7 linked regions of the Homo sapiens genome follow. The protein of the gene in region 1 purifies or fractionates together with the protein of each later gene. This does not show direct contact. Each region holds a gene or a part of one and is shown on either strand. Other genes may lie near its edges.

Region 1 (3,500 bases):
TCTTTAAAGTACCTTTATGGGTTTTTTCTTCTAAAATTGTTTTTTAAAGAAAAAAGTTTTATTTGGAATAAGATTCTTGTAGGTAATTCCATGAGATGATTTATTTTAGCAGCAACATAATATTTACATTATTATTAATGTAATTAATGTTATTAATACCTCATCAGATAGCTTCTTTGATCTGGAAGCTTCCAGGTACCTATTGTCAGTACTTGTGGCTCTACCACTTGCCGAATGTATTACAACTCTAGTTGTGGTAGAGAGGGGACTGAGAGGTAGACAACTTATGTAATCTACTACCTAGTTTGTTAACAAAACACACATACAAAGCAATGTTTTTCAAATTTTTCTGACCACTGAGCAATAAAAATTATGACATATATTTTGATGTGACCCAGTTCTGTCTCTCTTTCTCTACCCTCTAAGTGAAACAAAATTTATTGAAACCAAAATTCCCTTACTACATGTAATATTCTCATATATTCTATTAAATTTCGTTATTTAGCTTGCTGATCAAAGGCTACTGAAACTTGAGAGCAAGATACAGGAGCAAGGGGAAATGTGGTATAGATTCTGAGTGTCAAGTGGCAGGTCCATTTTTTCCTCTAGCTCCAGTTCTGCCTTCTGAGGAAAACCTTCTCCAACAACTTAGGTCAATCACACCCATGTCCCTTCTCTGAATCCTTTTTGCACATATGATTGGTATCCGACAGCCTTACTCATTTACATTGCACTTATTTGGCTGCCAAACGTCACAAACTGGAACCATGTGTTACTGAAGGGAAAACCTGGAAGTGAAAAGGGTTCAGCAGTAGTGCAAATACCATCATAAAGCTCATATACTTCACTCTGCAGGAGGGAGAAGCTCTGTGGTTTTCCAACTGAGAGCATTACAGTACAGTGATACCACTGTACAGGAACTGATGTTCCTGATGATTCTGCTGTGAACAGTATTTTTAATATACACTTTGAAGAAGGCAGAGAGAAATGTATAATAGACTTAAATTTTTTTCTTTAAAATTGTTAAATAAAAACAAATAAGCACTTTAAGTAAGTTACAATTATCTGGAAAACTACTTAGGTGGAAAAACTGATACAGAATGAATGAAGTATTAATTTCTGTTTTGTTCTGTGTTATTATTATTTGGGATAGATGTCTTGTTTCTTTAAGCAGACTATGAATATCTTGAAGGCAGAACCACATTTTTTTTTTTTTTGAGACAGGGTCTCACTATTACTCAGGCCAGAATGCAGTGGTGTTATCATAGCTGACTGCAGCCTGGATTCCTGGGTTCAAGCCGTCCTCCTGCCCCAGCTTCCTGAGTAGCTAGGACTACAGGCATGTGCCATCACACCCAGCTAATTTCAGCTATTTTTTTTTTTTTTAAATAGAGATGGGGTTTTGCTATGTTGCCAGACTGGTCTCAAGCCATCCTCCTGCCTTGGCCACCCAAAGTGTTGGGATTACAGGTGTGAGCCACCACGTCTGGCCAAGGACCAGATTTTTAATATTCTTTTCCACAATGTATCTGGTACACAGTAGTTGCTTAATATGTTGGCTAAACAAAGAGTGGAGATTCAGTAAAGGGTGATCAGAGTGAGGTGAGATTAATTTGGGAAAGCCTAGAAGTGATTCTTGAGCCTGATTTGAAGGTGGTGCTAGCTGTGGATTAGTAGAGGGAGAAGGGCATCTCAGAGAGAGGATTGCCAACATGCCTTAATTTTATCAGATTCTAGAGTTCCTTATGATTACCTCAGCATGTTGCTAGACTAGCATTATTATCCAAAATTTTAATTATTAACCAACTTTAATCTTACTTTCTAACAAATTGTTTGCTTTTACTACTGATAGCCTTTTCAAAAAACTTTAACTAGTTTTATTCCTTACCATAATTGTTTCAAAGAACATAATGATATGATCCTTTATCTTCCTAAGAAATGTGCAATTATTTGGTTAAACTGTAAGATTATTTAATCCATTATTCTTTTGACACATGCATGGCCTTACAGCTTACAAACTGGGATCACTAAAGGAATACACTTAATTTAAGTCTTTCTGTAGTCAGAATATGATTTCTTGTTGTCTTGCACAATACTGAGAACAGTGCAGTACAGGGCGAAGGTTGGTCTACAGCCCTTAGGCCAGCAAAAACAGGCACAACTGCACCTCTGTGCAAATGTTCCTGACATAACCTTGGGGAAAAAATATAAAATGCGGCCTTTTCTTTTACTACCTTGTTTGGTAAGTACCTGGAAAAACTCCATGAAATAATTAGATTTCATAGTTAATTCTAACTTTTTTAAAAAATGTTTCATTGAGACTAGGTTTTTGGTTTGTTAATTGAATCACTGTTGATTTTACCCTTCCTGGCACCAACCTTTATTTCTGAGCTGTGGAGAGCACAGTTCTCACTCAGTGCTGTGTGCGTCACCTGAAATCCACAGAAAGAGGTGGCTGAACAAAATCACTGATGACCTTAATGGTTATTTTTCACATATTCAGATTAAATTAAAATACGTTTAGTGCTACATGCTTGACTTACTGAGTTTTTCCCTCTATTTTGGTTAATTTTTTTTTTTTTTGGTTAACTTTTACTTGTAGAAAATATGTTGATGAACAAAAACCCACTTATACTATAAGATTTTATTCTACCAAGCACACAGTAACAATATTGAAAGCTGCTTTCCATCTTTTTCATCTTTATACAGTTCCATCGAGCCTCTGTACCTTACCTATGGAATCATATTTGCCTGCGGCTGCTCCTTTGCATACCAGCCTTCATTGGTCATTTTGGGACACTATTTCAAGAAGCGCCTTGGACTGGTGAATGGCATTGTCACTGCTGGCAGCAGTGTCTTCACAATCCTGCTGCCTTTGCTCTTAAGGGTTCTGATTGACAGCGTGGGCCTCTTTTACACATTGAGGGTGCTCTGCATCTTCATGTTTGTTCTCTTTCTGGCTGGCTTTACTTACCGACCTCTTGCTACCAGTACCAAAGATAAAGAGAGTGGAGGTAGCGGATCCTCCCTCTTTTCCAGGAAAAAGTTCAGTCCTCCAAAAAAAATTTTCAATTTTGCCATCTTCAAGGTGACAGCTTATGCAGTGTGGGCAGTTGGAATACCACTTGCACTTTTTGGATACTTTGTGCCTTATGTTCACTTGGTGAGTATGCTCCTTCACTGATCATGAATATTACTATTTAATAAAGAAAAACTTCTTTGAAGAGAAAGTTAGGTCGAGTTAAAGTTGGCCTCAAACATTATCCTGGTTGTAATTTTGGTATTCTTGAAATGAAAGGTCTCTCAAGACAATGTCAGCACATCCATTAGACCACTAAACAGAGAGAGTATGTTTCATAGTGTGCTTTGGTATTTTAAAAACCCTGCAAACCCAGCCAGACACCATGGTGCCTGTCTATGGTCCCAGCTACTAAGCTGAGGCAGGAGGATCACTTGAGCCCAGGAGTTCGAATCCAGCCTAGACAACATAGAGAGACTCT
Region 2 (3,500 bases), on another chromosome or scaffold:
CTTGATTTTGTTACACTTGGTTGGCAAACTACAGCCTCAGAGGCAGTTGAAAAATAGAGTATATAAGAATGAGCAGGCCAGGCATGGTGACTCACACCTATAATCACAGCACTTTGGGAAGCCAAGGCGGGTGGATCCCCTGAGGTCAGAAGTTCGAGACCAGCCTGGCCAACGTGGTGAAATCCCTTGTCTACTAAAAATACAAAAATTAGCTGGCTGTGGTGGCACGTGCCTGAAGTCTCAGCTACTGGGGAGGCAGAGGCGAGAGAATTGCTTGAACCCGGGAGGTGGAGGGAGCCGAGATCTCACCATTGCACTCCAGCCTGGGCCACAGACACAGACTCCACCTCAAAAAGAAAAGAAAAGGAAAAGAAAAGACAACGAACAAGCAAATCTGTGTTCTTGCCCAATCTTACTAAATTGCTCTCTAGGACAGTATAGGGCTTTACTATTTTATCATGTTGCGTCTTGGTTTCCCCATTAAAAATAGAAGTCTGGGACTATACCCAAGGATCACATTGATTCCTTTCCATTTTCTCGTTCTGTGGTTTGGGTAGTTTTATGTTTCCCCATAATACTGTGTTCTTCTTTTTCTTTTCTGGGAGGGGGCGTTCTGTAGCAGCAGGTGTATCCAGGGCTCCTTTAAGAGACAGTTTTTTTTGTGTGTGTTTGTTTTTCCTCCTGTCTAATTTTGGCTTTCTTTTAGATTATTTTATATTCTGGAGACAAAATTTATGATGACTACTATCCAGATCTGAAAGGCCGAGTACATTTTACGAGTAATGATCTCAAATCTGGTGATGCATCAATAAATGTAACGAATTTACAACTGTCAGATATTGGCACATATCAGTGCAAAGTGAAAAAAGCTCCTGGTGTTGCAAATAAGAAGATTCATCTGGTAGTTCTTGGTAAGTTATTTTTATTTGTGTTAACGGGTTACTGAGTAAGAGAATGATTAGTCATAGTACTGTAGTAGCAGCACTTGTATAAAATAAAGCTTAATTTTTTAGAATAACAATTTTAAACACTTGAAGTACTTCTATGTTGGATAGCATCAAATATAAAACTAGCTTTTGGTTTTGGATAGGAAAAGTAAGAAGTGATCAACTTCTTTGTGAAATTCATAAGAGTTTGAAAATAAGTGAACGAGTATTATGGTATGGAGGAAGAACCCTAAGCTAGGAGTTAGGAGATCTAGGGTTTTTGCCTTGTCCTCAGAATTTGCCCTGAGAATTATGTAGAACCATGTTTCTATGATGAATAATTTAAGCATTTAGAATGGAGATGAAGAAATATGGAAGAAGGAATATTGAATTCAAGTAAGGCCATTAGGCATCACATAGTATTTAAGCTTCTTGGCATCACTGTTTTTCATCATTAAAGTGAGGAGATGAGACATTCACTGATATCTTATAGCCCTCTCTGTAATAGTTAATAGGGAGGTAGTGTAAACTGCTTTGTAAACTGCCAAAGACTACAGAGTTTATTATCCTTCTCTAGATTCTGTGATAATGTCTACAAGCACTCTTAATCCCTTCAAATTGAGAAACTGAAAGATAATAGTTCATAAATATACTTCTAAAACCATACTGTGGTAAGCTTTACACAAAATGTACATTGGCTACCATGTAGAAAAACATAGCTGTCTAGCTCTCTGCTTAATGACAGTAAATTCCCCTGTCCTCATGTTTTAGGGGACACTTGGGGATTGACTTTCATAGGAAAAGCTGATGCTAGAATTGTCTAGCATGACTGGAAATAACTGATCAGGGCAGGCCTCCCACATCAACATTTACCTCATTCCTTCTGTTTAGAGAACTGATTAGGGGTGGGGTAGAATATTCTAAAGAATACTCTTTATTTTAATTTTAATTTAATTTAATATTATTTTATTTGAGATGGAGTCACACTCTGTTACCCAGGCTAGAGTGCAGTGGCACAATCTCTGCTCACTACAGCCTCTGCTTCCCAGGTTCAAGTGATTCTCTTGCCTCAGCCTCCCAAGTAGCTGGGATTACAGGCATGCACCACCACGCCTGGCTAATTTTTGTATGTTTAGTAGAAACAGTGTTTCACCATGTTGGCCAGGCTGGTCTCAAACTCCTGACCTCAGGTGATCCACCCACCTCGGCCACCCAGAGTGCTGAGATTACAAGAATACTCTTTAGGAGAGCAATGTTCAAGATGACTTGGGCACCCAACACTTAACTACTCCTCCTACAAGTAGACCCAGCACTTAACTATTACTCCTAGAGACTAGGAACAAGAGTGGGGATTTTTGTGTACCTTCATGGCAAATTCATGCATTGTCTTGGTAGATAGACTCTGCTGGCAGCATCATTGAATGGGGACCTGAAGAGGTCCTGGTGAAATGCATCATTCTGAATCGCACTAACTAAAAATGTTTCTTGTGGTGTGAAAGTAAGTCAATCTAAAAAAGGAACCAGGAAAAGGAATATGGTAATGTTGGAAATTTGAATTTTCTGTGTCTTCATTGAGTAAACATGGAGTAACTTTTCTTTGTTATAAATGTATAAGCAAGTGAAAGATTAACACCTGGTCCGAATTCTTTTTTTTTTTTTTTTTTTCTTTTTGAGACCAAGTCTCGCTCTGTCACCCAGGCTGGAGTGCAGTGGCATGATCTCGGCTCACGGCAACCTCCGCCTCCTGGGTTCAAGCAATACTCTTGTCTTGCCGTCCTGATTAGTTGGGACTACAGGTGCCCGCCACCACACCTGGCTGATTTTATTTTTGGTAGAGACGGGGTTTCACCATGTTAGCCAGGATGGTCTCAATCTCCAGACCTCGTGATCTGCCTGCCTTGGCCTCCCAAAGTGCTGGGATTACAGGTGTGAGCCACCGCACCCAGCTACCTGGTCTGAATTCTTATCACAGACCCAGGAATTCCTGAGATTATAACCCTGACTATACTTTCTTCCAACACTGCTCTCTAGGAACTATTAAGTTGGAAGATGTATACGGAATATTAACTGGTTCATGATATGCGAAGCAGAAGATATTTGATTATCGGAATTATTTATTGTGAAACCCCTGTTTGATGGGACAGTTACACTGGGATTAATGGGGTTGGCACATATTCCCAGAAGAGTTGTGGACAAGCATGTTTGTGTGTTTGTGTATTGTCTGGATCCTGTGGGACCAGGTTCAGGGTCACATTTGCAGTTCTCAACTGAAGAGAACATTACAGCAGAACATGTCCCAAAAAGGAACCTGAGTTGGGTGGTAGGGGATGGCACATGATGTGGCTCAGTTCACTCATGGCAGGAGCCGTGACTGCCCGGCAGTAGGAATGGCCTTTTTATATTAAACTTTGAACCCCAGCATGTCCTAAGAATGGGTAAGTGGGAAGCATTGACACAGTTCACCCTGAGTTACTCCTGGGGAGAATTTTATAGCCAAGTCAGCCTTCAGTTCAAACCAAGGAGGGGGAGAGGGGATAAACTGGGGATGAGAGGAGAAAGCAGGGAAGTGATTGC
Region 3 (3,500 bases), on another chromosome or scaffold:
GTGAAAACAGCAGCTGGAAAGTGATGGGAAAGTTTCCGCAAGAGTTGAGAAAAGGAATCCTAAATACTTAATATTAATTCTACACAAATCTCTCACTGACCCATGAAGATCGTACACATGGGGCAGCCTCCAGGCAGCCCAGCTAAATAAAATAACTGAGCAGATATTCCTGCTGCCCATTGTAGGAGAGACAGTTTGGAGTTTGAGTACAATGAAGTTAATCAACAACTGTCTTAGTCGGCTTGGGATGCCACAACCAATACCACACAGACTTGGTGGGATAACAACTGAAACAAATTTTCTCACAGTTCTGGAGACTGAAAGTTCAGGATCAAGATTCCAGGAGGGCCAGTGTCTGATGAAGGCTCTCAGACAGCTGCCTCCTCACTGTGTCTTCACACAGTGAAGAGGGAGTGAATAAGCTCTCTGGTATCTCTTCTTCTAAGGACATAAATCCTATCAGACCCAGGGCCCCACCCTCATGACCTCATCTACCCCTGATTACCTCCATCTCCCAAAGTTCTCATCTCCAAATACCATCACACTGGAGGTTAGGGCTTCAAGATATGAATTCTCGGGGAGCGAGGGAGATCACATTCAGTACATAACAACAACAACAACACACACACACACAGAGCACAGGATTAAAAGAGAACCCAGAGGCTGGGCGTGGTGGCTCACACCTATAATCCCAGCACTTTGGGAGGCCAAGGCAGGCGGATCGCAAGGTCAGAAGTTTGAGACCAGCCTGACCAACATGGTGAAACCCCATCCCTACTAAAAACACAAAAATTAGCCGGGTGTGGTGTCACGCGCCTGTAATCCCGGCTACTCAGGAGGCTGAGGCAGAAGAATTGCTTGAATCTGGGGGACAGAGCTTGCAGTGAGCTGAGATCACGCCACTGCACTCCAGCCTGGGCAACAGAACAAGACCCCGTATCAAAAAAAAAAAAAAAAAAAAAACAAAAGGTAACCCAGAGCCTCTACTAAGTAACAATCCCAATGTCCAATATACACTCCAAAATGACTAGATATGGTAATGGACAGGAAAATGTGACCCATATTCAAAAGAACGGTAATCAAATTAAAAGAAATTGCCTACTAATAAAGTTCATGTGCTCAAGAAAAGAAAGTTAAATGACACTAAAGACCTAGAAATTGGCTGGGCGCAGTGGCTCATGCCTATAATCCCAGCACTTTGGGAGGCCGAGGCGGGCGGATCACGAGGTCAGGAGATTGAGACCAGTCTGACCGATATGGTGAAACCACGTCTCTACTAAAAAAATACAAAAAATCAGCCGGGCGTGGTGGTGGGCGCCTGTAGTCCCAGCTACTCGGGAGGCTGAGGCAGGAGGATGGCGTGAACCCAAGAGGCAGAGCTTGCAGTGAGCCAAGATGCACCATTGCACTCCAGCCTGGGCAACAGAGTGAGACTCTCTCTCAAAAAAAAAAAACAAAAACAAAAACAAAAACAAAAACAAAAACCAACACCTAGAAATTCAGAGTTATGTGATAAATTTGTACATGGGTCAACATGCCTGCCAAGGGTGACCAACATGCCTGCCAAGGGTGACACAGACAATGACAAATAAGACTAGCCTAAAGCAAAATGTTGAAATAAGCTGGCACTCTCTGACTTCCCCTATCAGAGTTCAATACATTTGACTTTCTGACACTCTTACAGACCCTACTCTCTAGTTCCATTCTTTAAAAAAAAAAAATATATATATATATATATATATATACACACACACACACATATACATAATTTTATTATGTCACAGAGTTCCACTCTTACTCTAAACTGGCTGCCAACTACTCAACTAATTAATAATTAGATATTACTGACATTTTAGATACGAACCCTATGAGAGTTTTAAAGATATTATTGAAAAGCATCTATAATTCTGTAACAATTGGTAGAAAAGTTCTATATATTTAAAAACTTAAGGCCAGGTGCAGTGGCTTATGCCTGTAACCCCAACACTTTGGGAGGCCAAGGCAAGAGGACCACTTAAGCCCAGGAGTTCAAGATCAACCTGGGCAACAGAGTGAGAAACCCATCTTTGCAAAAACAAAAAAAAAAATTTTTTTGAGACGAAGTCTCGCTCTGTCACCCAGGCTGGAGTGCAATGGCGTGATCTCAGCTCACTGCAACCTCCACCTCCTGGGTTCAAGAGATTCACCTGCCTCAGCCTCCCGAGTAGCTGGGACTACAGGTGCGTGCCACCACGCCCGGCTAATTTTTGTATTTTTAGTAGAGATGGGGTTTCACCATGTTGGCCAGGATGGTCTCGATCTCTTGACCTGGTGATCCACCCGCCTCAGCCTTCCAAAGTGCTGGGATTACAGGCATTAACCACCGCACCCAGTCAAAAAAATTTTTTAATTAGCCAGGTTGGTGGTATGGGCCTGTCATTTTAGGTACTTGGGAGGCTGAAGTGGCAGGATCACTTGAGCCTAGGAGGTTGGGAATACAGTAAGCCATGATGATGTCACTGCACTCTGACATGGGCAACAGAGCAAAACACTATCCAAAAAAAACAAAACAGAAAACTTGGACGCTTGGACGTTCACACTGCGAGTAAGCCATATCAACCCATTATCTATCAGTGAGCAGGGTGTTGATACTTTTGTTGATACATTCATGATAGGTTTCTACAGGTTTTATTTCATTTATATATATATATATTATATATATGTGTATATATATAATATATATATATATATATATATATATATTTTTTTTTTTTTTTGAGACAGAGTCTTGTTTTGTCACCCAGGCTGGGGTGCAGTGGCGCAATCTGGAGTCACTGCAACCTCCATCTCCTGGATTCAACCAATTCTCATGCCCCAGTCTCACAAGGAGCTGGGATTACAGGCGCACACCATCACGTCCAGCTGATTTTTATATTTTTAGTAGAGGTGGGGTTATCTACGTTGGCCAGGCTGGTCTCAAACTCCTAGCTTCAAGCAATCCTCCCGCCTCAGCCTCCCAAAGCACTGGGATTACAGGCAAGAGCCACCATGCCCAGTCTTTTCCTGCTGCTTTTAACAAAGAGTTACACCCATCCAGAAATCTATTTAATGACTTTTCTAATCTACTAAGGATTGCCCCAGAGTATGTGTCTCTGCACTTGTCAAAATAAAATGCATGACCGGGCGGTGGCTCACGCTTGTAATCCCAGCACTTTGGGGGGCCAAGGTGGGTGGATCACTTGAGGTCAGGAGTTCGAGACCAGCCTGGTCAACATGGTGAAACCCTGTCTCTGCTAAAAATACAAATATTAGCTGGGCATGGTGGCGGGTGCCTGTAATCCTAGCTACTCGGGAGGCTGACAGAGGAGAATCACTTGAACCCGGGAGGCAGAGGCTGCAGGGAGCTGAGATTGTGCCACTGCACTCCAGCCTGGGTGACAGAGCAAGACTCCATCTCAAAAAATATAAAAATAAAAATAAAATAAAATGCATACAGACTAATGCGTGTAATCCCAGTACTT
Region 4 (4,025 bases), on another chromosome or scaffold:
AAATGGATAATAAGGTGGAGAGCCTTGAGAAATGAACTTCCAAAGTTCAGTGCATGCAGTTAGCATGACTGCTGGTTTTAGAGTTCTCAACCACTTATTGCTTATGAGCAATAAGTGGCCATAAGCATTTGGCCAATCACTTACTTGAGTTTACAGGTTTTCTCATCCATAAAATAACAATAGCTGCTATGCTGCCCTCAAAGGGTTGTCCTGAGGTCTGAATGGAATGGGTGTGATAGTGTCTGAGCAACTATAAAGTGGTATGGCACTGGGAGGTATTGTAACGGTTTTTCATTACTCTTCTTAAAATATCACCAGTTTCCTTTGGCTCTTGTTTCCCTCATTAATTATAGCAACTGTAATCTGGGAATACACAGTACTTTTATTGCCATAAAAGCCAAACTTCAATAAACTCAAATTTCAAACTTTTCTATAAAATTTTATTCAGTGAGATCAGACACGCCTTATAAACATTACACAGAGCCAAGAATGATTCCGTTTTTACAGCTATAAAAAGAGATCTACAAGACCCTATTGTAATTTGGGGTGGCGTCACGGTTAATCTTTTTCAACCCTGTTTAGATTGGCCCATTAATAAAAATGGCTGCTAGTTACAGCACATTTAAAAATACAATCACCGCGTACAAATGGTAACCTGTCCACTCCATACTTCCATGTCCTGTGCCGCTTCTATTAACTTGTCTTTGGAAGTAGTAAATTCTCCCAGTCTGGACGTGGCTATTTTTTCTCACACACGGGCCAACACAGTTCTTGCTCAACTTGGGTGCGTTTATGACTTTTCAACAGTGTCATCAGCCGTACCTAACTCTTCCAGGCCTTCAGTATCTCAGGTGTTAGCTTCAGTTGTTCCTAGGTCTTTCACAAATATCATAAATGACAGGCAGGACGCTTTTCTGGAGTCAAGATCTGTTAGTTTCGGAGTCAGAAAGACCCCGTTTAGAGACTCGTAGGCGAACTTGCCAGGGGGCCTACCAGGGGCAGAATGGGGTCCTCCGGACCAGCCAGCCGCGTCTCAGCCACCTCCGCAGCCCCCGGGGCCCTGAACCCCGGCCGCGTTGACGCGCGCTTCTCCCGGACGTCGGCAGGAGGCGCCCGCGGCGGACCAGGCGCGGCGCGCACCGTAGCCGGCCCAGGGGGCGGAGGGAGCGGAGAGGAGGAGCTGGAGGGGGCGCGGCTTCCTCTCGGTCGCTCCCTGGCGCCGGGCCTCTTTCTCTGCCTGGCCCAGGGCTGGCGGCCGGCGGGGGTCGCGGCGGCGGCAGTGGGGGCGCTGGCGGGCCGCGGGTGGCGGGGGCCGGGCCGCGGCTCCGGGTGTTAGGAGACAAGATGGCGGCGGCTCTCAGAAGGCCGGTCTCCTCCTCTCCGCCGTCCTCCGCCCCGCCGCTCGCCGCCTCCTCCTCTCGGGTCTCCTCCTCCTCGTTTGCTGCCTCCTCCTCCTCCTGCAGCAGCACCAGCGACCGCCGAAGCGCCGGCTCGCTCACCCGGAGCTCCGGAGGTGGATAGACGGGGCAGCTGCAGGCTCCGGCGACCGAGGCCGAGCTGGGGCCGGGGCGGGGACGGCGGCGGCGGCGGCGGCGACGGCGGCGGCGCCGGGTGGGGATGGGGTCGCAGACGCTGCAGATCCTCCGACAGGGGGTGTGGGCCGCGCTCAGCGGGGGCTGGTACTACGACCCGCACCAGGCCACCTTCGTGAACGCGCTGCACCTCTACCTGTGGCTCTTTCTGCTGGGCCTGCCCTTCACCCTCTACATGGTGAGTGTGGGGGCGGGGAGCGGGTGGCTCCTTCCCCGCGAGCCGGTGGGGAGATGCTGGGGTCGCGCCCTCTTCCTCTTCCACGGGGTCTCGTCCCCCGGGGGCCGCCACCCTCTCGGTGTGAGGCTCCCCGCCCCCACTGCGTGCTCCCACTCCTCTCTTCGGGGCTTTCCTGGTTTCGGAGGTGACACGAGCAACGAGCCCACGGCAACCCGCGCCGGCCGCCCCCGCCCGCTCACTGGGAAGCGGCAGCGTCCTAGGCCCCTTCTCGGGGTTCCCTCCTGCGGCCACTCGGCTAGGCCGTCCCCGCCGGGGCCCCCCGCCCGTGGGGCTGTGTGGCAGGCGCCGAGCGCTCTGCGGCTTTAGGGGACGCCGCATCCATCCTTGGCACGCTGGGTTCCTCGGGCGCCCGGCATCCGGCACTGCCCGCCCCCGCCGCGGCCCTCGTCCGGGGCTCCCGGGAGAGGCCGCCCGCCGCCTCGCCGCTAATCCGCGTGCGGAGCCCCGGGAGCGCGGGGGACCGTGCGGCTCTGCTCCGAGTGTGTGTGGGGGTCGTCCGGGCTCGTCCTCCAGGGGTCCTGGGTGGTGGCTGAAAACCCGGCTCGGAACCCTCCTGCCTCTAAAAAACCGTTGTTGTGCTTCGCAGCGGTTCTTCTCTGTTCGGCCCCGTGGCCGGTGGCCGTGGTGCTTCCTGGCCTCCCTGGGGGGAGGGAGCGGGGAGATAACGGGGAATCTGGCTGGCATTTCAGCAGATTTGTTTGGCTTGGTTCAAGGCCTTTGGCGGATAGGAGTAGGGAGAGAGAGTACTGCCTGTTGCTGAATTCGGTGCGATCAGCTTCTCTGAATCATCTGTGTTTTTAAAGCAACATTGAAAGTTGTTAAGCGCAGTTTCTAAAGCACAGGTTAGGGTGGGGCGTTAGGGAAACTCGTGTGGACAGAGATGTTACTTAAGGCTTCATATAAAATTTTAAAGTAGTCAGAGGGGAGGAAAGGATCTGAACTTTTTATTTTAGGAGAATTCCTTTGAATGTATTTCTGCTAACTTTGAGGTTCTTTGTGGAGCTAGAGACAGGGTGCTGAGTTAGAAAATCCCGGAGGACCACTATGAGAAGTGCAAAAGGTGAGGACACCCAATTCTTCCCTAAGTGAAGTTCAGTTTCACTAATTGGCAGGAAAAGTGTCTGCTTGAGGGAAGATGTGCACATTCTCAAGCAGATTCACATTTTTCGTTGAAATTGTTTTGAAGGGACTTATTGTTTGAGGTTAAAAAAAAAAGCCATTAAGAAATGCTGATGGCTTGTGGCTTGTTTTATTAGGGGGACTTGTTCAGTCTTGTTGCATTCTGAAAATTTATCGTGAAGTATTATAATTTTCAATTAATTTTGGCCTAGGGAGTTCTATTTGCACTACTATACCTTCCAGGAATATGACATCATTAATGAACGGGTTAATTACTTTGGGTTTAAGAATCCTCAGGCTGTCACAAAATTTTCAAAGCAAATTTCTTCTATGTCCAGAAGAATTGTAGATTTAAAACTGAAAATGATTTTTGAGAGGTAAGGATTAGTTGCTGGGTCCAGTGTAAGATTTCTTTTTTAACACTTGTAGTAAACTGTGTGGTCATGGTTAAGTCTCTTTGTGTAGTTAGCAAATGTTACTGAAAGAATATTAGAGCAAATGGAAACCAGGACATTGAGTTTACTTCCTTCATTTTGGGAGTTCAGTTAAACTGAATTCTCACATATTTGAGTGTCTACCATGTACTAGACACTTTCTGAGATTGCTTCTGACTTCCTTATCTCAATTAATGGCAGTCCCACTCTTCCCAAACCAGAAGGTGCTGAGCTGTTCTTAATCAGTTCAGACCTTTACCTGAAATGGATAATAAGATGGAGAGCCTTGAGAAATGAACTTCCAAAGTTCAGTACATGCGGTTAGCATGACTGCTGGTTTTAGAGTTCTCAGCCACTTATTGCTTATGAGCAATAGGGGCTGTATCTTCAAAACCTAACTAGACGACGACTCCTCCCTCCTCCTCCTCCTCCTCCTCCTCCTCCTCCCCCTCCTCCTCCTCCTCCTCCTCCTCCTCCTCCCCCTCCTCCTCCCCCTCCTCCTCCTCCCCCTCCTCCTCCTCCCCCTCCCCCTCCTCCCCCTCCTCCTCCTCCTCCTCCTCCTCCTCCTCCTCCTCCTCCTCCTCCTCCTCGTCCTCCTCCTCCTCCTCCTCCTCTCACCAGCACCATCATCATCACGGCCAT
Region 5 (3,500 bases), on another chromosome or scaffold:
AGTTAAGTCTTAAATCATCATTTAAAATTCAAAACAGAAAAAATGCACGAAGTCAGCTTCCAGGATAAGGAGAAGGAACATCTGACGCGGTTGCAGGATGCTGAAGAAATGAAGGTGTGTGTGGCTGCCCCTTCCATCAAGCCCAGTGTGCATTTGATGCATTTGGATTGGAAATGCTTGTTCTAGGAAAATCTGTCACCTTCAGATCCGTATATGGCAAGGGACAGGGGAGGGGCTGTTGTTGGGCATTCAGAGTCGATCTCAGAGTATAGCCTGGCTTAGAAATGAACAAGTCCAGAAACCCCAAGATGTCTGTAGAGAATGGTTAAGTTGCGTTAATACCTTTGTCTTCACCATTCCTGATGAAGAGGGAAAGGGTAGCACCCCCAATCACTGCATGGGCTCTTTTGTCGGAGTTAACTTCTAAGGATTTCTTCCTCCAACCTTTACGCAGAACACACCAAATTTGAGTTTCTATCTCAAACATAGAGATTTTTCTTTTGGTCACATTTTAAACTGTAAAGGAAAATTGATTGTGGAGTAAGACTTTTAGGTGAATAAAATGAGACAGGAGAAGATGTAGGATTTTGATTAGTTGTAGGCAAACTATGAGCCTCATTGAGTCAAGGTCCACAGTTAAAGACGTCCACGGCATGCCCTTGCTCCAGCCAGCAGAATAAAATCATGCGTCGTGGGAGTCCCTTTCCTGTTTTCAGAGTGCTGTTGCCAAAAGGTCTCCTTTGGACATCATCATAAATCTGTGCAGTGGGCAGGGCAGGGGCTTTTATCTCAGTTTTACATGTGAGGGAGTGCAGCTCACACAGGTTACAGGCTTATCTGGAGGTTACGTGGATAGGGAGAGGTTGGTGCCCTCTGACTGACCTGGCTGGAGAAGCTCAGGCTGGGCTGTAAAAGGTCAAGGGAACACTTTTTATTTAGTTGGTGGGCTAATTGGCTTCTAGGGCCAACTTGGTTTGATAACAGATCTTGGGTTTTGTTATCCCAATAAAGCAAGGCCGGGTCCTGGGGGCAAAACAGCCAGAAATGCCCCCAGTTTTGGGATCTGACATCTGAGGGACACAGGGAAGGAGGTAGGTCCAGATCCAGGGCTTGTCACAGAGTGGGCTGAGTGCCAACGAGTAGATGACATGTTTCTCTTGGCCTGGGATGCAGAAGGCGCTGGAGCAGCAGATGGAGAGCCACCGGGAAGCTCACCAGAAGCAGCTGTCCAGACTCCGAGACGAAATTGAGGAGAAGCAGAAAATCATTGATGAGATTCGGGAGTGAGTCGGCCCAGGGCACCAGGGGTGTGGGGGTGGTCATGCCTCGGTCCTCTTGGGGAAGCCTGGAAGGATGTGGCTCTTAGTCGAGGGCCCTGCTCACCTTGCCCTGTGGGCACTGCCCTGGTGACACAGCAGGCTGGGCGGGCTGCTTCCAAGGTCTGTTCTCCGATCTGGAGCTGAGCCTCCTGGAGCCCTGGCATGGCAGGTGGCAGGCGGGCCCAGCTGCCTCTCCTAGTCCCCGAGGGCCAGGGTCACATAGGTGATTCCGCTGGATGGACGCATGCCCCAGTAGATGGGGGGGAGCATCTGTAATGAAAGCACCAAAAAAAAAAAAAAAAAAGAAAAGAAAAGAAAAGAAAAAAAAAAAATTTGGTCCTGACTACAGGATTCTAGTAGGTTAATAAACACTCGAGAGAAGACAGCACCACCGCCTCCCCTTCTCCCCCTACACATACACGCTCACTGGGCAACCCAGCCACCTGGTTCCATGTGCTCACTTCTTAGGGCCCCACACTGTCATGTGTCTGTGCAGGTAGAGGTGCCAGTGACCTGTGGCACTGCCACCAGGATGGCATCATTGCAGTTTCTCTCAGGTGACACCCCCTCATGTTGTGCTCCTGCCTTGTCGCAGCCTCTGACATGCCCTCTGCTCCTTCAGAATAATGTTTTCAAATGCTCTGCATAAAAGACCTGGGATTACAAAGAAAACCAATTATATTGAAATGCTGACCTCCCCACCCCCACCCCACCCAGGGTCTACACTGTTCCCTCCCCTCCCGCTTTCTGTAGATGAAGAAACAGATTTCTATATGGGAAGCAAGGCGAAATGATTTACTTAAGGTCACATTGCTAAATAGGAATCAGATTGGAGTTAGACTTTAATTCTCCAGACTACTGATCCAAGTCCCTTTTCAATGTGTGTGAGCCGCTCGAAAGGTGCATTTGCATTTTAAAAGAGGAGAATGGTAACCCAAGCAAAAGTCTAAATGGTGTGACCCAGGCTCGGTGCCCAGTTCCTGAAGGAAGGCACTTAGCCTCCTCCCTCTTTTTCTCCTCTTCGGCCATCCCCTGCTGTTGCCATGTTGTGCTTTTCCCCTTCAGGGATATCTCACATTCGTTATTCTGATTAATCACCCTCACAGATTCGACTGGAAGGGAGGGGGAGGTTGGAGGGAAGGAAGAGGGAGAAAGAGGGTTGGTTGGTGAGTGAGTTAGGTGGAGGGGGAAGCTTCCCTGGCTTGTGCCTTTCAAATGGACTCTGGGTTTTCCTTCTGGTAGTGCATAGCTGTTCCTTTACAGGCGCTTAGGCGTGGCTCTAGGAAAGGTTTTATGAGTCCTGGGCTGATGTAAATGTTGACCAAACACCCTCAACCAGATGGCGAGTTTCTGTTTGCAGCAGAGCCCAGGCTGTCTTTTCTTCATAATTCTCTCTGTGCCCACTCCTCGAGGGCAGGAACTGTCCCTGTATCAGTGAGGCATTCGGACTTGGGAGATGTTTTTAGAACATCAGACCAGAAATGAGGGAAGGTGGAAATGGCCAAATCAGGTTCCCCAAGTGACTGCATGCCATCCGAGGGGCCGAGGAAGCAGAGTTCTTCTGACATGGGCTCTCTGTTTTAAAATATCAGCCCTTCTCCCATCTCATTATTTTTCCCCTGAAGCTCTTGCACAAGCAAACTATAAATACATCCTCAAAGCCTTATGTTTCATGACTCTTAGATGCACCCCAGAAATTAGTTTTCACTTGGGCACGGAGGAAGCTGTGAGGCTGTTCTGTGATCCCTCCAAATCCTGCAGAATTACTGCCTTTATTGTACAGAGCTAATAGGGTTGGAACAGAACCACGGTTTTAGCCTGATGACTCAGAATTTCAGACTGATGTGGAATATATTGCTTTTTCCTCTCAATTTCAGTTTGAATCAGAAACTGCAACTGGAACAGGAGAAGCTTAGTTCTGATTATAACAAGCTGAAAATAGAGGACCAAGAGAGAGAAATGAAGCTGGAAAAGCTCTTGTGAGTGCACTCTAAATATTTCCTCTATTTTCTCTCATCCCCATGATATTCTGGTTAGATTGGGCTAATTTAAAAACAGACAATGGCTATTTGTGTGCTTGTTGGTGGGTTTTGTTGATTTATCTGTGGATGCAAATAGTATCTGCTGAAATCTCTGAGTCCCCTGTGGTGGTCTATGGTTCCTTTTTGTTTTTCAGATTGC
Region 6 (3,152 bases), on another chromosome or scaffold:
TCCTTTAAACAAACAATCAACAACAATAAAACACAGAAGTCTGGTGGTGTTGGATCCTAGACCAGAAGTACGGGCCATTAGGAATCAGTGAATTAGTTGGATTCCATACTACAGTCAGACAGAGATAGCTGCTGTTTGTTAAGCACAGGTTATTGGTCATAAGTGGATCATAACCAAAGAAATGTGGCTGGAGCACCCATATCCCTTATTTTTGCTGGAATGCAAAGCAAACAAATGCCCAACTGATGGAAATGCGATAGTAGCAATCTCATTTCTAGAAGACAGTTTTCATACAGTAAATTGCTATGAATGCAGTCTGCATGACTCTACAATTACTACAACACTAAATAAAAGTCTCTATCCTATGGCCTTATTATCCAAGGATATATATTATCCAAGGAATATATAACCTTACATATATTAATATATATAATATATATATATTATAAGATTTACTTAAGAAGTATTGGCCACATTCAGCCTCAACCAAATTTTGGGTCAATCAGAACTGCCTGGAGTTTCAGAAGCTAAACTATTTGTGATGTTGAGAACCCAACTTAAGTTTGATGTCGGAGGATCATTAGATTCTCTGCTCCAAAATGAGGGAACACAAGTAAACAAAAATAAAATCCAAATGAGTTAACAACACCCTATAAACTGAACTCCTCGAATGTGGGTAACTGCTTTGCTGAACAAGAAGATTCACTTTTGACATGTGCTAAATTCCCTTTTAGGACATGGAGATCTAAGGAGTCACGGAGATAGAAAATTTGTTAGCCTAAGGAAGAATAGAAAGTACATTGTATTCTGGCTGGGAGCAGTGGCTCTCGCCTGTAATCCCAGCACTTTGGGAGGCCAAGCTGGGCAGATCACTTGAGGTCAGGAGTTCAAGAACAGCCTGGCCAACATGGTGAAACTCTGTCTCTACTAAAAATACAAAAATTAGCCAAGCATAGTAGCAAGTGCCCATGATCCCAGCTACTCAGGGAGGCTGAGGCAGGAGAATCACTCGAACCCGGGAGGCGAAGGTTGCAGTGAGCCGAGATCACTTCACTGCTCTCCAGCCTGGGCAATAGAGTGAGAACCTGAAAAGAAAGAAGGAAGGGAAGGGAAGAGGAGGGGAGGGGAGAAGAAAGAGAGAAAGAAAGAGAGGGAGGGAGGGAGGGAGGGAGGGAGGAAGGAAGGAAGGGAGGGAGGGAGGGAGGGAGGAAGACAGAAAGAAAAAGAGAAAGAAGGAAAGAAAGAAAGAAAAGAAGAAAGAAAAAAGAAAAGAAAGGAAAGAAAGAAAGAAAGAGAAAGAAAAAGAAAGAAAGAGAAAGAAAGAAAGAAGGAAGGAATTCTAAGTGAAGTGGATTTGGTTAGGAAACTTTCTGATCTAAACTTCAGCCTTTTAATAGGCCAATTTGAGGTCATCTTGTTATAGTTATTTTCATTATATATTCTGCCTTCAAAATAGGTCTATTTATTATACATTATAATGACAGCATCATACAGGCATTTCAGGGGTACATAATAAATGTCAATCCTCATAGCCAGTTCTGAGAGATCTCCTGGTGTCACTTTAATTTGTAGCAACATGCCCAAGACCACATATCAAGTGAGAAATATAATAGAATAATAAGTCTAAAGTTGCCATCATTGAGGTTTCTATTCAGCTATTTATCTCTGAAACACTTAGTAATTAATTTTCTTATTATATAAAAGTGTTTCATGTATTTAGCACTTGAAATAAAACACAATTTGTGGAGACAGTCAATGTGAATAATTCTATATTCTAAAAATATATCAATCAATCAGAAAGCTGCCTAATATTTCCTTCATTTTGGGCTAAGTACAGCAGACCCTCATTTAAGTCATATTTTAATAGCAAACCAAGAAAATCAGCCTACTCCCTTATGCCCACCCAGGTAATAATAAAGCTTCCATTGAGGCTACCAGCAGTGCCTGAAAATCTCACAACTACTTTTGTGCTCAGAGGACATTACTACAACAGAGAACATTATTTAGAAAATTACATATAAAATTAACCATCCTGAGGACTATAAGGATATGCAGCTATGTTAGGAACAAGTGTATGAAAAATAACAATTTCAGGATAGACTAGTTTTCTTGTGTAAAAGTTCTAACATCATTTGCAGGGTTCTTTCAACTATACCATACAGCCCTTTTCAGTGTGTGTGATTACTGTGAAAAAATTAAAAAATATAAAACATAGTTAATAACATAAGGCATAAAAGAATGATAAATTTATGTTAGCTCAACCATTTACTAAGGGTCAAGGATGTCCTCACTGTTTAAAAAAACTTAAACGCTAGTAGGAAAGACAGAAATACAGCATCTATTTATAATACCTTTTGATACATGTGAAAATTAAGAAGTTTGTTTCAGTACTTTAGAAATACAATGAGGGAATATCCGATCTAGCCTGGTCCAGGAAAAGGGAAGAAGACTGAGGCAGCAGGAAAGGCTATCAGGAAGTAAACCCTCAGGGAAGTGTGAAGACTTAAGCAGGTTAATGTTAACTGGCAGAGACCAGGTAGATAAAGACATGGTTTTATTTATTTTTGTTTTACTGTTTCAGATAGCATGCCACCAGTAGAAAGAATATTAGTGTTTATTATCTACATGACTATATTTTTAGGCAACATATTTTTTGTGCATCTTATCACTTTAGTCCATTTGCATTACTATGAAGGAATACCTGAGACTAGGTTATTTATAAAGAAAAGAGGTTTATTTTTGCTCACAGTTCTGCGGGCTGTACAGGAAGCACAGTGCCAGCATCTACTTTAGGCAAGGACCTCAGGAAGCTTCCACTTATAGTGGAAGGAGAAGGAGGAGCAGGCACGTCACATGGCAAGAAAGGGAGCAAGAGAGAGAATGTGGAGGTCCCAGACTCTTTTAGTTAATCAGATCTCAAGCAAACTAACTGAGTGAGAACTCACGTTACCAAGAGGGTGGCAGGCACTAAGACATTCATGAGGGATCTACCCGCTGTGATCCAATTATCCCCACTCGGCCCCACCTCCAACACTGGGGACTACATTTCAAAATGAGAGTCAGGGGGACAAAAAACCCAAATCATTATCAGTGATCATTGTTCATTTATTTGTTTCAAACTCTCAACCAAATTTAAGTAAATGGGTCAGTAT
Region 7 (3,500 bases), on another chromosome or scaffold:
CCTCAGGAAGGAAGGAAACGAAAGAACCCCTTGCCTGCTCAGTGCTGAGGCCACAGAGGGCAGGTCCCCCGAGTGAGTGCGGGGGACGCTTGGCTGCTGTTTAGCTCCACTGTGGCCATGGGGAGACCCAGCCTGGGGGTGCTGGCCCCCTCCCGGAGGCCCCGTGTCCCAGCCACTCTGCCTGATCGGGGCTGTGTGTGCTGTTTTACGGCTCAGGTCCAAAGACAGCGCCTGCCTTTTCATCAGAGGCCATGCGTCTCCCTGTGTTTCAGACGTTGGTGATCAAAGTGTCCGGTGTGATCCTGTCCGTGGTCGGGGGCCTGGCCGTGGGAAAGGTAACAAAGTGCACATGGCCACTCCAGCTGGAGCCTGAGGCCGCCGGGCCCGCGAGGGCCGCCACGCCCATGTGTGTCTCTGAGCACCGGTCCTTCTGGTCTCCAGGAAGGGCCGCGTCACGCGTGTCTCTGAGCACCGGTCCTTCTGGTCTCCAGGAAGGGCCGCGTCACGCGTGTCTCTGAGCACCGGTCCTTCTGGTCTCCAGGAAGGGCCGCGTCACGCGTGTCTCTGAGCATCGGTCCTTCTGGTCTCCAGGAAGGGCCGCGTCACGCGTGTCTCTGAGCATCGGTCCTTCTGGTCTCCAGGAAGGGCCGCGTCACGCGTGTCTCTGAGCACCGGTCCTTCTGGTCTCCAGGAAGGGCCGATGATCCACTCAGGTTCAGTGATTGCCGCCGGGATCTCTCAGGGAAGGTCAACGTCACTGAAACGAGATTTCAAGGTGAGTTGAAATCTTGTGTGGGTGGGCTCCAGATGCCATGGGCACGGGCACGGGCACCACTCAGGGAGATGGGCTTCCCTCAGCACCCCCAGGCCGAGAGCCCCAGCCCCATCTGAGGACAGCCTGGCGGGTGGCTCCCAGAGCCAGCGGGCACAGTCCCTGCCCGGCAAGGCCTCCCTACGGCCCGCTGCTTCCCTCCTTGGGTCCCCTGCCACACGTGCATCAGTGTTTCCCGTGGGAGGGTCTGTGGCTCCAAGCGGCTTCTCAGAGGAGTGCAGAACCTGAGACCAAGTGTGCCCACCTGTTGTTTATTTGTCAAGACACACTTTGGAACACTTTTTCCCCAAAAAAGTCCCCAGCATGTTGATGGGGATTGAGCTGCATTTGTGTGTGATTGTATTTTTTTTTTTTTTTTGAGATGGAGTCTCTCTGTTGCCCAGGCTGGAGTGCAGTGGTACAATCTCAGCTCACTGCAGCCTCCACCTCCCAGGTTCAAGCAATTCTCCTGCCTCAGCATCCCGAGTAGCTGGGATTATAGGTGCCCGCCACCACGCCTGGCTAAGTTTTTTGTATTTTTAGTAGAGATGGGGTTTTGCCATGTTGGCCGGGCTGGTCTCAAACTCCCGACCTCAGGTGATCCGCCTGCCTCGGCCTCCCAAAGTGCTGGGATGACAGGCGTGAGGCACCGCGCCGGCCATGTGTGAATTTAGAGGCAGGCAGCGTCCCGCAGGACAAAGAACAGCAAGGCTGGGTTTCCATCCGTGCGCTTTTCGTTAGAGGGTAGAGGTTTTTGGAATCTTGCGTGCGCTGGAAAGTGGAGCTCCTGGCTGGGTGTTTGCGTGTTTCCCTGGGCTGCCGGTGGTGGTGCTGACCCTGCTGTCTCTTGCCGTGGTCTGCAGCACGGTGCTCTTCAGGAATCAGAGCTGCTGACTCGGTTGTCCTGAAAGCCCCTTCCCCTGCACAGCCCCTGTCCTGGCAGTTGCTCTCCCTTTCTGAGAGCCGTGCCCTCAAGGAACCTGCCCCGACCCTGGTCTGTCCCTGTTGCAGATCTTCGAGTACTTCCGCAGAGACACAGAGAAGCGGGACTTCGTCTCCGCAGGGGCTGCGGCCGGAGTGTCAGCGGCGTTTGGAGCCCCCGTGGGTGAGGAGGGCCGCACCGGGTCCAATGCTTTGCCCTCGCCCTGTGTGTTGGAAGGAACGGTCTCCTCTCTGTAGGCCCAGTGCCCGCTGAGGGTGGCAGAGGCTTGGAGTCACGGCCGGGGCATTTGGAAGCGGCCGGCAGTGTACTTGGGTCCAGCCCTCAGACCTCCCTCAGGGTCCCTCTCTGTGTGGCTGGGGCCCACCCCATTAGCTTCTTTCTGACGTGGTCTGGGTTCCCTGGAGCCTGGGGGAGGGAGTTGGTGGTGGGCATGGTGCCCTGTGTCCAGCTGGCACCCGAGCCGGCCGCCTGCCTTCCAGGTGGGGTCCTGTTCAGCTTGGAGGAGGGTGCGTCCTTCTGGAACCAGTTCCTGACCTGGAGGATCGTAAGTTCCTGCTGATGGCTGCCTCCTGATCAGGGTGCATGCTGCGCTCTCATTTCCCACCATGGGGTCCACCTTGGGGCCACCCATCGAGCTGCGGCTGGAGCTGGACCCCCTGTGGGTCTGTCAGGCCTTGGTCCTGCCCAAAGCAGCGGTCCTGCCTTTGCTGCCCAGTTCGCCCTTGGTCCTGGGCACCATTGCCAGCCCTGGGTGGCTCCCGGGTAGGGGATCAAACAGCCGGGAACCCAGCCCTGCCCCACCTTCCCCTCTTGCTCTCCACTGGCAAGTCCAGAGAGGGCTGGGCCGCTCCTTGCCCGCACAGTGCGCCCACCCCTGGCTCCAGCCCCTTCCCTTCTGCCTTGGGCGGGGTCTGCAGACTCCTGGCCCCGGGGCTGACAGGAGGGGCGATGGTCCCTGCTGGTCCGTGAGCCCTGGGCTGGGAGCGTGGCTCTGAGGGCGCTGGTTTCCTGCCCTCTGCCGCAGTTCTTTGCTTCCATGATCTCCACGTTCACCCTGAATTTTGTTCTGAGCATTTACCACGGGAACATGTGGGACCTGTCCAGCCCAGGCCTCATCAACTTCGGAAGGTTTGACTCGGAGGTAACCTGCCCCATCGCCCACCTCGCCCACCTCGTATCCTGGTCCAGGACCCTGTTTGCTTAAGGCCCAGGTTGAGAATTTGGTCCTTTAGAAAACTCTGGTTGATAGCTGTGGAGCTGAGAGCTCTTGTGTAAGCTCCAGGGCCCCGAGGGGCTGCAGGAAGACACCCCAAGCTGCCCCTCAGGTCAGGGCACCATGTGACCAGCAGGGCACCTGGGATGTCACACAGTTGCTGCGTGCATGGGGCCTCCCACGGCCTGGGGGCACGTGCAGCAGCCGCTCTCGGGGCAGGTGGGCTCAGGCCTAGTTTCCAGGGTAGCCTGGGGCCTGGGCTGGGGAGACTCTCCGTGCCATCGATAGGGCGGCTCTGTGCGCAGGAAACTGGGGGACCACGGGCTATGTTCCCAGTGCTTGGGGCCCTCCCCGCCCCGGGTGCTGAGGGTGGCAGGGTCTCTGAGAGCCTCGCTGGCCACCCCGCCAGGCAGGGGCCAGGCCTGCTCAGAACACCCAGTGTGTTTCTCCCCTGTGGACTTCCGCAGCCTGCGTGGAAGGGCGGGAAGGCTCTCTGTGGGGACAGCTCTCTTAAGATGGTGGTCCTTGAGTTT

Evidence for each region.
Region 2: the proteins of SLC16A10 (region 1) and CXADR purify together in Homo sapiens (affinity purification with mass spectrometry; one large-scale study listed by BioGRID and IntAct). This does not show direct contact.
Region 3: the proteins of SLC16A10 (region 1) and TRPM7 purify together in Homo sapiens (affinity purification with mass spectrometry; one large-scale study listed by BioGRID and IntAct). This does not show direct contact.
Region 4: the proteins of SLC16A10 (region 1) and PCNX1 purify together in Homo sapiens (affinity purification with mass spectrometry; one large-scale study listed by BioGRID and IntAct). This does not show direct contact.
Region 5: the proteins of SLC16A10 (region 1) and KIF5C purify together in Homo sapiens (affinity purification with mass spectrometry; one large-scale study listed by BioGRID and IntAct). This does not show direct contact.
Region 6: the proteins of SLC16A10 (region 1) and CAV2 purify together in Homo sapiens (affinity purification with mass spectrometry; one large-scale study listed by BioGRID and IntAct). This does not show direct contact.
Region 7: the proteins of SLC16A10 (region 1) and CLCN7 purify together in Homo sapiens (affinity purification with mass spectrometry; one large-scale study listed by BioGRID and IntAct). This does not show direct contact.

Annotation. Positions count from the first base shown.
Region 1 is NC_000006.12:111,174,503-111,178,002, forward strand, and holds part of SLC16A10 (monocarboxylate transporter 10), read left to right. Parts: intron 1-2,709; coding exon 2,710-3,163; intron 3,164-3,500. UniProt on the Homo sapiens protein: Sodium- and proton-independent thyroid hormones and aromatic acids transporter.
Region 2 is NC_000021.9:17,551,043-17,554,542, forward strand, and holds part of CXADR (coxsackievirus and adenovirus receptor isoform 1 precursor), read left to right. Parts: intron 1-706; coding exon 707-911; intron 912-3,500. UniProt on the Homo sapiens protein: Component of the epithelial apical junction complex that may function as a homophilic cell adhesion molecule and is essential for tight junction integrity.
Region 3 is NC_000015.10:50,676,798-50,680,297, forward strand, and holds part of TRPM7 (transient receptor potential cation channel subfamily M member 7), read right to left. Parts: intron 1-3,500. UniProt on the Homo sapiens protein: Bifunctional protein that combines an ion channel with an intrinsic kinase domain, enabling it to modulate cellular functions either by conducting ions through the pore or by phosphorylating downstream proteins via its kinase domain.
Region 4 is NC_000014.9:70,906,234-70,910,258, forward strand, and holds the start of PCNX1 (pecanex-like protein 1), read left to right. Parts: upstream 1-1,225; 5' UTR 1,226-1,617; coding exon 1,618-1,770; intron 1,771-4,025.
Region 5 is NC_000002.12:148,997,227-149,000,726, forward strand, and holds part of KIF5C (kinesin heavy chain), read left to right. Parts: intron 1-37; coding exon 38-114; intron 115-1,173; coding exon 1,174-1,283; intron 1,284-3,196; coding exon 3,197-3,298; intron 3,299-3,495; coding exon 3,496-3,500. UniProt on the Homo sapiens protein: Microtubule-associated force-producing protein that may play a role in organelle transport. Has ATPase activity. Involved in synaptic transmission. Mediates dendritic trafficking of mRNAs.
Region 6 is NC_000007.14:116,502,738-116,505,889, forward strand, and holds part of CAV2 (caveolin-2), read left to right. Parts: intron 1-3,152. UniProt on the Homo sapiens protein: May act as a scaffolding protein within caveolar membranes. Interacts directly with G-protein alpha subunits and can functionally regulate their activity.
Region 7 is NC_000016.10:1,454,529-1,458,028, reverse strand, and holds part of CLCN7 (H(+)/Cl(-) exchange transporter 7), read left to right. Parts: intron 1-272; coding exon 273-335; intron 336-691; coding exon 692-775; intron 776-1,822; coding exon 1,823-1,916; intron 1,917-2,233; coding exon 2,234-2,298; intron 2,299-2,778; coding exon 2,779-2,895; intron 2,896-3,500. UniProt on the Homo sapiens protein: Slowly voltage-gated channel mediating the exchange of chloride ions against protons. Functions as antiporter and contributes to the acidification of the lysosome lumen and may be involved in maintaining lysosomal pH.